3 linked regions of the Homo sapiens genome follow. The protein of the gene in region 1 interacts with the protein of each later gene in a biochemical or structural test. Each region holds a gene or a part of one and is shown in the gene's direction. Other genes may lie near its edges.

Evidence for each region.
Region 2: the proteins of SELE (region 1) and CEACAM1 form a complex in vitro, tested with the Homo sapiens proteins (one large-scale study listed by IntAct).
Region 3: the proteins of SELE (region 1) and SELPLG form a complex in vitro, tested with the Homo sapiens proteins (one large-scale study listed by IntAct).

The regions. Positions count from the first base shown.
Region 1 is NC_000001.11:169,731,280-169,735,223, reverse strand, and holds the start of SELE (E-selectin precursor), read left to right. Parts: upstream 1-1,144; 5' UTR 1,145-1,253; intron 1,254-1,563; 5' UTR 1,564-1,611; coding exon 1,612-1,648; intron 1,649-2,225; coding exon 2,226-2,609; intron 2,610-3,281; coding exon 3,282-3,389; intron 3,390-3,944. UniProt on the Homo sapiens protein: Cell-surface glycoprotein having a role in immunoadhesion. Mediates in the adhesion of blood neutrophils in cytokine-activated endothelium through interaction with SELPLG/PSGL1. May have a role in capillary morphogenesis.
Region 2 is NC_000019.10:42,509,144-42,511,481, reverse strand, and holds part of CEACAM1 (cell adhesion molecule CEACAM1 isoform 1 precursor), read left to right. Parts: intron 1-561; coding exon 562-593; intron 594-2,253; coding exon 2,254-2,338.
Region 3 is NC_000012.12:108,627,395-108,630,894, reverse strand, and holds part of SELPLG (P-selectin glycoprotein ligand 1 isoform 2 precursor), read left to right. Parts: intron 1-2,145; exon of another isoform or gene 2,146-2,249; intron 2,250-3,500. UniProt on the Homo sapiens protein: A SLe(x)-type proteoglycan, which through high affinity, calcium-dependent interactions with E-, P- and L-selectins, mediates rapid rolling of leukocytes over vascular surfaces during the initial steps in inflammation.

The DNA.
Region 1 (3,944 bases):
TAAAAATTATCCCAAATCCTGCCATCCAGAGTTAGTCACTGTTAACATTGTGGAAGAATTTTTATTCTTTGCACATTAACATTTCAAAAATTTTAAACAAAATTTTGACCAATTAAATATATATATATAGTTTTCCGTTTTATTTTTTTTCTTTTCTTTTCTTTTTTTTTTTTTTTTTTTAAGACAGAGTTTCACTCGTTTCCCAGGCTGGAGTGCACTGGCGTGATCTTGGCTCACTGCAACCTCCACTTCCCGGGTTCAAGCGATTCTCCTGCCTCAGCCTCCCGAGTAGCTGGGATTACAGGCATGCGCCACCATGCCCAGCTAATTTTGTATTTTTAGTAGAGATGGCGTTTCTCCATGTTGGTCAGGCTGGTCTTGAACTCCCGGCCTCAGGTGATCCGCCTGCCTCGGCCTCCCAAAGTGGTGGGATTACAGGCGTGAGCCACTGTGCCTGGCCTCCTTTTTATTTTTTTCACTGAACAAACCATGAAACTTTCCCAGATGTAAATATCTATTTCCCATTTTTCTTTTTTTAAAATAAGGCATTATTTTAACCATTTGAGTGTTAGATATTATTTTTAGATAATATTTTAATTTAGGCATAACTGCCGTGCAAAATCTGAAGATTAATATCTACCTTGTGAGTCATTCCTCTGTGAGACAGTGCATGTTAAATATGTTGAATTGGCAGGTGAAAAAGGAAGAAAAAATGAGTAGTGATTGGTTATCCACAGCTATGAATGAGAAATTGAAGGTAGTAGACTATGGATGACAAACCTATTCTTGGTTTCCTTCTGTTTCTGAAATTCTAATTACTACCACAACTACATGAGAGACACTACTAACAAGCAAAGTTTTACAACTTTTTAAAGACATAGACTTTATGTTATTATAATTAAAAATCATGCATTTTTGTCATATTAATAAAATTGCATATACGATATAAAGGCATGGACAAAGGTGAAGTAGCTTCAAGAGACAGAGTTTCTGACATCATTGTAATTTTAAGCATCGTGGATATTCCCGGGAAAGTTTTTGGATGCCATTGGGGATTTCCTCTTTACTGGATGTGGACAATATCCTCCTATTATTCACAGGAAGCAATCCCTCCTATAAAAGGGCCTCAGCCGAAGTAGTGTTCAGCTGTTCTTGGCTGACTTCACATCAAAACTCCTATACTGACCTGAGACAGAGGCAGCAGTGATACCCACCTGAGAGATCCTGTGTTTGAACAACTGCTTCCCAAAACGGTAAGTGCAGAACGCTTTATAAGGGCAGCCTCGGGCCATGAAACACAGATATGCAAAAGGCCTTCTAATAAAAACCACATCTGTACAAGCTCTTATTGTATTGTAGCTAAAACCTGTCTTTTCTCTTTGACCTAAATAATGAAAGTCTTAAAATTTGTTTATTTATTTGATTAAACTCTGAAATAAAGATTATTGCACTAGTGTCCTTTGCCCAAAATCTTAGGATGCTGCCTTAAACATCATGGTAGAATAATGTAACTAGCTACCCACGATTTCCTTCTTTAATTCATTTTGTGTTTTATCTCCCCAGGAAAGTATTTCAAGCCTAAACCTTTGGGTGAAAAGAACTCTTGAAGTCATGATTGCTTCACAGTTTCTCTCAGCTCTCACTTTGGGTAAGTCAGTGCCATTAGACCAAGATTTCTCATTCTCGCACTATAGATATTTCAGACTGAAATATCCTTGCTTGTCTGGGGCTGTCCTGCACAGGATATCTGGCAGCATCCTTGACCTCTACCTGCAATGTGTTCTTCCCTGGGCTTGGGGTCATTTACTTTACCTCTTGGTGTCTCCCTTTCCTTAAGTGTAAAGTGTGGATCATAATGACCTATTTCCCAGATGCATTGTGAGGATTCAATAGCATGGTTCATGGAAAGTACCTCATACAGTGCTTCTTGGTGCATACTAAGTGCTCAATAAAGCTTAGTTATTCTGATTATTATTCTACTACAAAATGGGTATACTATAATGTTGTGAGTGAGTGTGGATAAGGTACCTAGTGGGTGGCAGTCACAAAAGAGATAAACAATAAGTCGCTGTTTCTTCATACGTACTTCTTACTTTTGAAAAGATGAGAAAAGTCTGGGCCATGTCACAAACATTGCCAAAAATAAGACAATAAAAAGCACAGTTGTCAGAGTTAAACCACAACAGTACCAAACTCTACCATTTCTTTTCTTTTTCTCCCACTAGTGCTTCTCATTAAAGAGAGTGGAGCCTGGTCTTACAACACCTCCACGGAAGCTATGACTTATGATGAGGCCAGTGCTTATTGTCAGCAAAGGTACACACACCTGGTTGCAATTCAAAACAAAGAAGAGATTGAGTACCTAAACTCCATATTGAGCTATTCACCAAGTTATTACTGGATTGGAATCAGAAAAGTCAACAATGTGTGGGTCTGGGTAGGAACCCAGAAACCTCTGACAGAAGAAGCCAAGAACTGGGCTCCAGGTGAACCCAACAATAGGCAAAAAGATGAGGACTGCGTGGAGATCTACATCAAGAGAGAAAAAGATGTGGGCATGTGGAATGATGAGAGGTGCAGCAAGAAGAAGCTTGCCCTATGCTACACAGGTAGGGAGTTTGCGGCAGCAGTGGGAGGTAGTTTCAGTGTGTGGGCATCTTGGCAAATTTACAGCATGCAAAAACTGCTCTCTATTGTGGTCATTTTATGTTCCAAAAGATTCTGTTTAACTGCTAAAGTTTCTCTCTTTTGCTGTTTTGTGTGAATGTGGGCAAGAATATGTGGATATGTATATATATACACACACACACATATATACACACACACATATATGTGTGTGTGTATATATATATAGCCTACAGCATTTATATACATTTTATATATATACATACACACATATACACACATATATGTGTGTATGTATATATATAAAATATATATAAATACTGTAGGCAAATATGTAGTTCTTTACATATAAAAATGCACACACACAATACATATTTTAATTACTTGTTTATTTGTGGTAGGGGAACTGTCTTCAGAGTTTGTGAAGAAGTAAATTTTCTACGGTAGGTGCCAGCCACAGCTATACATTAGCATCAAGGTTTAGGATAGGTGGGCCTGAAACTCAGATTTGGAACTTTGTAAAACACTTCAGTTAAAGTCTATGGCACTCTGTAGGACTGCTGATGTCTCTGTTGCACACTGTTGATTCTAAAATCAAAGGCACTCAGTATAAGCACAGTAATAGTCCTCCTCATCATGCTTTGTATTTTCCGTAGCTGCCTGTACCAATACATCCTGCAGTGGCCACGGTGAATGTGTAGAGACCATCAATAATTACACTTGCAAGTGTGACCCTGGCTTCAGTGGACTCAAGTGTGAGCAAAGTAAGTCTGGTTCTTGCCTCTTTCTTCACTTGAGATGGTAGCACCATCTCACGTCCTAGCTGGCATTAGAGTCAGGTCTGCATGCCTTCCCTTCCCTGGTGCAGATGGTGTCATATGGTGATCGTGAGCTGAGACTATGAAGTCAGACCCTGCTGGGTTTGAGTCCTAGATTCACCAGTTATTTATTTTGGCACCTTGACAAGATAGTTTAACTCTCTATGTCAGTTTTCTCATTGTAAAATGAGGATAATAATAGTGTGAACTTCATAGGCTCATGGTTACATGGTGCCTGGCACACAGGACACATTCAATAAACTGTAATTCTGTGTCCCTGCGAGGAACATGTACTCACCTCATCTAGGTGGTAACAAGACGTTGCAGTAGAAATGAGTGAGTTACAGAGTCCAGGGTATCTTGGTTCATGCTCTGGCCTCTGGCTCTGTAATGACTAGCCGTGTAGCATGGAGCAAGTCACTTGAATGAAATGAGGTCTCAGTTCCTAAATTTGTACATTAAGAGAGTTAGATGAGCTTCTCTCCAAGATTCCTTAGCACA
Region 2 (2,338 bases), on another chromosome or scaffold:
TTCTGAATTTTCACAGAAAGGATCTCTATTTCCCAACCCTAAGGTGGCATAGGTCTTCCCACCCTTCCTAGCCACAGGAGTCCCCTGAGACACATCTGAGGAGAGAGGCTCACTCTGCCTAGGCCAGGCAGGCCTGAGGAAGATCCCATGTTTCCAGGAGCCATTTCCTCAGCCTTACTCCTTCCGCCTCCTGCCTCTATTACGGATGTGGGCACTCTCCCTTGGTGAGACTTTCCTTATCTTGTGGGTGCTGTGGGTGCTACAAGTCTCAATGCCCCTCCTTGCCACTGGAGCATGTTGCTGAGAAACACATCTGGGCAAAAATCAAGGCCTTGTGAACTGGTAGAACTCTTCACAAGTGGATTGTGGCCTCCTGTGGTTCTGCCCCTGCCCCCTCTCTGGTACTAACATGCTGGGTCTGGACCATACACTCTGAGGGAAGTAAATTCCTTAACTGATCCTTAAACTCCCCACCCTCCAACTGCCACCTCCTTCAGCTAGAATCACCTGAAGTCAGCTTTGCATTTCCATGGATCGCTAACTCTTCTTTTGCTTCTCCAGCTCAGGACCACTCCAATGACCCACCTAACAAGGTAAGCATAGCCGGTTTTCATGGGCTTATTTTCTCATGGAAATGATTCTGTGTAGAATTGATTATTCATGAAGACACAATGTAACATCAAGTTTGGGTTAATGTTCCTCAGTGCAACAACAAAGACGTATTTGTAATCACTCCCATGAGTCTACTTTGCAGCAAGAACATGCATTTTGGAATTATTCCCATCCTGTGTCTGAATACTGGATGTGACTCTTAGTAGCTCTGTGACCCTTGTCAAGTAACTTAACCTCTTTGATCATCAGCTTTGTCATCTGTAAAATGGGCATTCTGCCTACTTCAAAGAGAAGTTGAAGGGATTAAACGAGATAACCTACAAAGAGCACCCAGCACAATGGCCTAAAAAAGGAAGGCACTGAATCATTCTCACTCCCCTACCTTCAGTCTGATCCTGCTCTTATTGTCAAAAGGATAATTTCAATTTTAATAGATCTGAGATCCTGTTTTTTAATAATAATTTTATAGAATTTTTCATTTTATGGCCAGGCACAGTGGCTCATGCCTGTAATCCCAGCACTTTGGGAGGCCAAGGCAGGTGAAACACAAGGTCAGGAGATCGAGACCATTCTGGCTAACATGGTGAAACCCCAGCTCTACTAAAAATACAAAAAAATTAGCCAGCTGTGGTGGCGGGCGCCTGTAGTCCCAGCTACTTGGGAGGCTGAGGCAGGAGAATGGCGTGAACCCAGGAGGTGGAGTTTGCAGTGAGCCAAGATTGCGCCATTGCGCTCCAGCCTGGGCGACAGAGGGAAACTCTGTCTCAAAAAAAAAAGAAGTTTTCATTTTACCTTTTCAATAGAGCAAACATACATACTGAAAAGTGCTAAATCATAATTATACTTTCACAATGTATGAACTTTCACAAGTTGAACACACCCAGGTAAGCAGCACCCAAATCATGAAATACTACATGACCTCCCCTTAAAAAGAGACCCTTCCAGCCAGGTGCAGTGGCTCACACCTGTAATCCCAGCACTCTGGGAGGCCAAGGCAGGTGGATCACTAGAAGTCAGGAGTTCTAAACCAGCCTGGCCAACATAGTGAAACCTTGTTCTACTAAAAATACAAAAAATTAGCCGGGCGTGGTAGTGGATGCCTGTAATCCCAGCTACTTGGGAGGCTGAGACAGGAGCATCGCTTGAACCCGGGAGGCAGAGCTTGCAGTGAGCCGAGATCGTGCCATTGCACTCCAGCCTGGGCGACAGAGCGAGACTCCGTCGCAAAAAAAAAAAACTCTACCAGTCACTTCCCTCCAAAGAGGAGTAACCACTATCCTGACTTCTAATGCTCCAGATTAGTATTGCTTGGTTTTGTTCCTATCTAAAGGAGAAATAAAACATATCCTTATATGTGGCTTCTTCAACATTGCTTTGTGAGACTCATCCATATTGTATGTATTTGTGGTTTGCTGGTTCTCATTGCTGCATTATCCTATCCCATTGCATATATACCATAATTTCTCTCTTCTAATGATCATTCATCAGGAGGTCAGCAAGCAGAGAATGGGTAACAACAAAAGCCCTTCTCCAGAGCTAAAATTTCAAAATGGTAACAGCTTGTGGTGCTGAATCACACCAGGCAAGGTGAGGCCCTGCCCTGTGTCACTGACTTAACTGATCATTATTTGTGCTTTTCAGATGAATGAAGTTACTTATTCTACCCTGAACTTTGAAGCCCAGCAACCCACACAACCAACTTCAGCCTCCCCATCCCTAACAGCCA
Region 3 (3,500 bases), on another chromosome or scaffold:
GATCAGCAAGACAGCTGTGGTTCCTGCCTTCTGGAAGTTTAGGAGTCAATGTGAATACATTTTTAGAAAATAAATGAACAGCAGAAATGATTTAAACACGGGAGGTGACTAATCGTGCCTGGGGCAATCTGGAAAGGCTTCTGGGAGGACTCAGCATTTCCCTGGCCCTCTTCAACCCACAACAACCCCATAAAAAGCGGGTGCTACCATTGTCCTTGTATTCCAGCTAAGGAACCCACAGCTCAGAGAGGTGAGGTGAGTTGCCCCAGGTCACACAGCTTCTAAGGGACAGAGCTGGGGATTGACCTGGTTTGATGTGACTCCCAGGGCACAGCAGGGCAGGGCAGGGCCTGTCCTGTCTACCCAGACTTAGATCTGCTGCCTGTGCCTCAGTTATCTGGGGTCTTTCCTTCTCTTGGTGACTACTTGACCCAAACCCTGAGATGCTCAGTCTTTTGAATTTTAGCATTCCAAGATCCTGCCCGCTCTGACCACCAGTTTCAGGATTCTCAGTGCAAGGTTCCTAGCGGCGTGGAGCCCCACGAGGATCTTTCCTGAGCAGCTCAGGGCGGCCACACGGCGGGTTCTCTGGAGCTGGAGTCTGGGCCCCCTGCAGCCTGCTCCTCCACACAGCCTAGATGGGGCCCATATGGGGTCTAGATGGGGCCTGGGCCAGAAGCAGCCTGGTTTTAGGGCGAAAGAGGCAAACGAGCAGTCTCTGACCTACTCTGTTAGGCAAGTGTTGAGACAAATAGGACGTGGTCACTGGAGACGCCTCTGTCGGAGCCCTGCCCTGGCCCCACTTCTGTGGGACTGTTTTTTGGCCTTCCAGGAAGAGGAGAGGTGGAAGGTGGGGCCTGGGAGTGATCCCGCCGCTCCGGGCCTTGCTTGCTAATCAGTGTGATGGCACCGTTAGAGCCAGTGAACACAGGGGTGAGGAGGAATGAGGTCACCAGATAGTGAGAGGATGAAATCATCCCTCCGTGGGAGGGGCTTCCACATATGTCATTTTTATTGTTGTATAATACATTTACTGTAGCAAATATTAAGGAGGTATTATGCTACCTGCCATACACGGTGAGAAAACTCAGCTCCTCCCCCTTCTACCTGTGTGGCCTCAGCTGAGACAAGATCTCTCAGAGCCTCGGGTTTTCTTTTCTTTCATTAAAAAAAATATGTTTTTTTCTTAGAGACAGGGTCTTACTCTGTCACCCAGGCTGGAGTGCAGTGGTGCGATCATAGCTCACTGCAGCCTTGACCTGGGCTCAAGCCATCCTCTGGCCTCAGCCTCCCGAGTAGCTGGGACTACAGGCATCACCAGCATACCTGGCTAATTTTTAATTTTTTTGTAGATATGGGTCTCAGTATGTTGCCCAGGCTGGTCTTGAACCCCTGCCTTCAAGTCATCCTCCTGCCTTGGCCTCCCAAAGTGCTAGGAGTACAAGCTCGAGGCACCGTGCCTGGCTGAGCCTCAGATTTTCTTTCTGTTAGATGGGCTGATGCCTGCTCAGCTGTGGCCTGGCTCCAGGCTGCTGTGTCTTAAAGCCAGTGGGATGGCAGGGACCAGGCTGGGGTGACCAACAACCCCCCACCCCCAGTTTGCCTGGGAGTGAGGGGTTTCTGGGGTTGAGGGACTTTCAGCACTGACACCAGGAACATGTAGGATAAGGTGGTTGCTTTAGACGGGCCCAGGAAAGGAGGTCTGGGCTTTCCGAATGTACCAGGTCTTATCATAACAGGTACGGAGGTCTCTGCTTTCTCAAAGCCCAAACACCCACAGGGGAGGTAGAGAGGCCGCCATCTCCATACCCTCTGAGTCTGAGACCTCCATTTCCTCTGCTCATCTGCCTGCAGCGCCGAAGAGAGTCCTCCAGATAAAGTACCCCCGGCTGGAAGCCAGCGTCTGGGAACTTCCATACACTCATTCAATTCTCATGATGATTTTTTTTAAGCAATATTGCCGGTTTTACAATGAGGAAACTGAGGCTTAGAGAGGGTGAAGCAACCTGCCCGAGTTTACACAGCCGCTAAGTGGGGGCAAATGTGGGATTCAGGCCCCAGCCTCTCCTCCACCCCAGCTGTCTCTGGGTGCAGGAGGCTGTGGGGATGGCTGTAGGGGAAGGGTGGGCAACAGTGACAGCCTACCTGAAGAACTGGGCCCCAGCACCCTCCGTGTTTCTGTGTTATTCTCCCAGCCTCCGGCCTGCTGCAAGTCCGGCCCTGACTCACCAAGATGCCTCCCCCAACCCGGGAACCAGGGAGACCAGGCCTTGCAACTTTGCCCCCACCTTCTCTGCTTCCAGGAAGTGGCTGAGGGCTTTGCCTTCCAGGAACAGAGAACTGCCCAAGTGGGGGTTGGTAGCTGTGAGTGTGCTCATAAGTATGAAATATGTCTCTAGGCTAATGGCTTCTTCCTAAAGTCCCTGCCTCCAGGAAAGTGGGGCCAAGGTTGGGCCGTAGATTCTTCCCCCAGATAAGAACTCTACCCCAAAGAAATTCTGCTGCCCTGAAGGCAAATTGGGAGGCAAAAGTGTGTGTGTGTGTGTGTGTGTGTGTGTGTGTGTGTGTGTGTGTGTTACATTTATTAAGCACCTACTGTAAGCTTGGAACTTTTGTTTTCTTGTTTTGTTTTGAGACAGGGTCTCACTCTGTCGCCCAGGCTGGAGTGCAGTGGTACAATCTCGGCTCACTGCAGTCTCAACCTTCCAGGCTTAAGCGATCCTCCCACATTAGCCTCCCCAGTAGCTGAGACGATAGGTGTGCATCATCATGCCTGGCTAATTTTTCTATTTAAAATTTTTTTATTTTATTTTTGAGGCAGGGTCTTGCTTTGTCACCCAGGCTGGGGTGCAGTGGCATGATCACAGCTCACTGCAGCCTCAATCTCTCCAGGCTCAAGCAATTCTCCCATCTCCGCCTCCTGAGTAGCTGGGACTACAGGGGCACACCACCACTCCTGGCTAATTTTTTGTATTTTGTAGAGACGAGAGACAGGGCTTCACCATGTTGCCCAGGCTGGTCTGGAACTCCTGAGCTCAAGCAATCCACCTGCCTTGGCCTCCCAAAGTCCTCGGATTACAGGAGTGAGCCACCGTGACTGGCCTAATTTTTCTATTTGTGTCGAGATGGGGATCTCACTATGTTGCCCGGGCTGGTCTTGAACTCATGGGCTCAAGTGATCTGCCTGCCTTGGCTTCCCAAAGTCCTGGGATTACAGGCATGAGCCACCATGCCCACCAGCCTGGAACTTTTGAATCTATCCCCTTGTTGCACTGTCTCAACAGCCCTGTGAGATGGGCACTGTTTCTTATCCCAATTTTACAGATGGGAAAACTGAAGCTCAGGGAGGCAAGCATCTGTGTCAAGGTCATACAGCTTGTAAGGGACAGAGCTAGGACTTGAACATCCTTTTTGTCTGACCCCACATCTATGCTTTCAACCCTATGCCCTGCATGGCACCCGGTAAATATGTGGCAGGCCTTTCTGGGGGACATAACTTT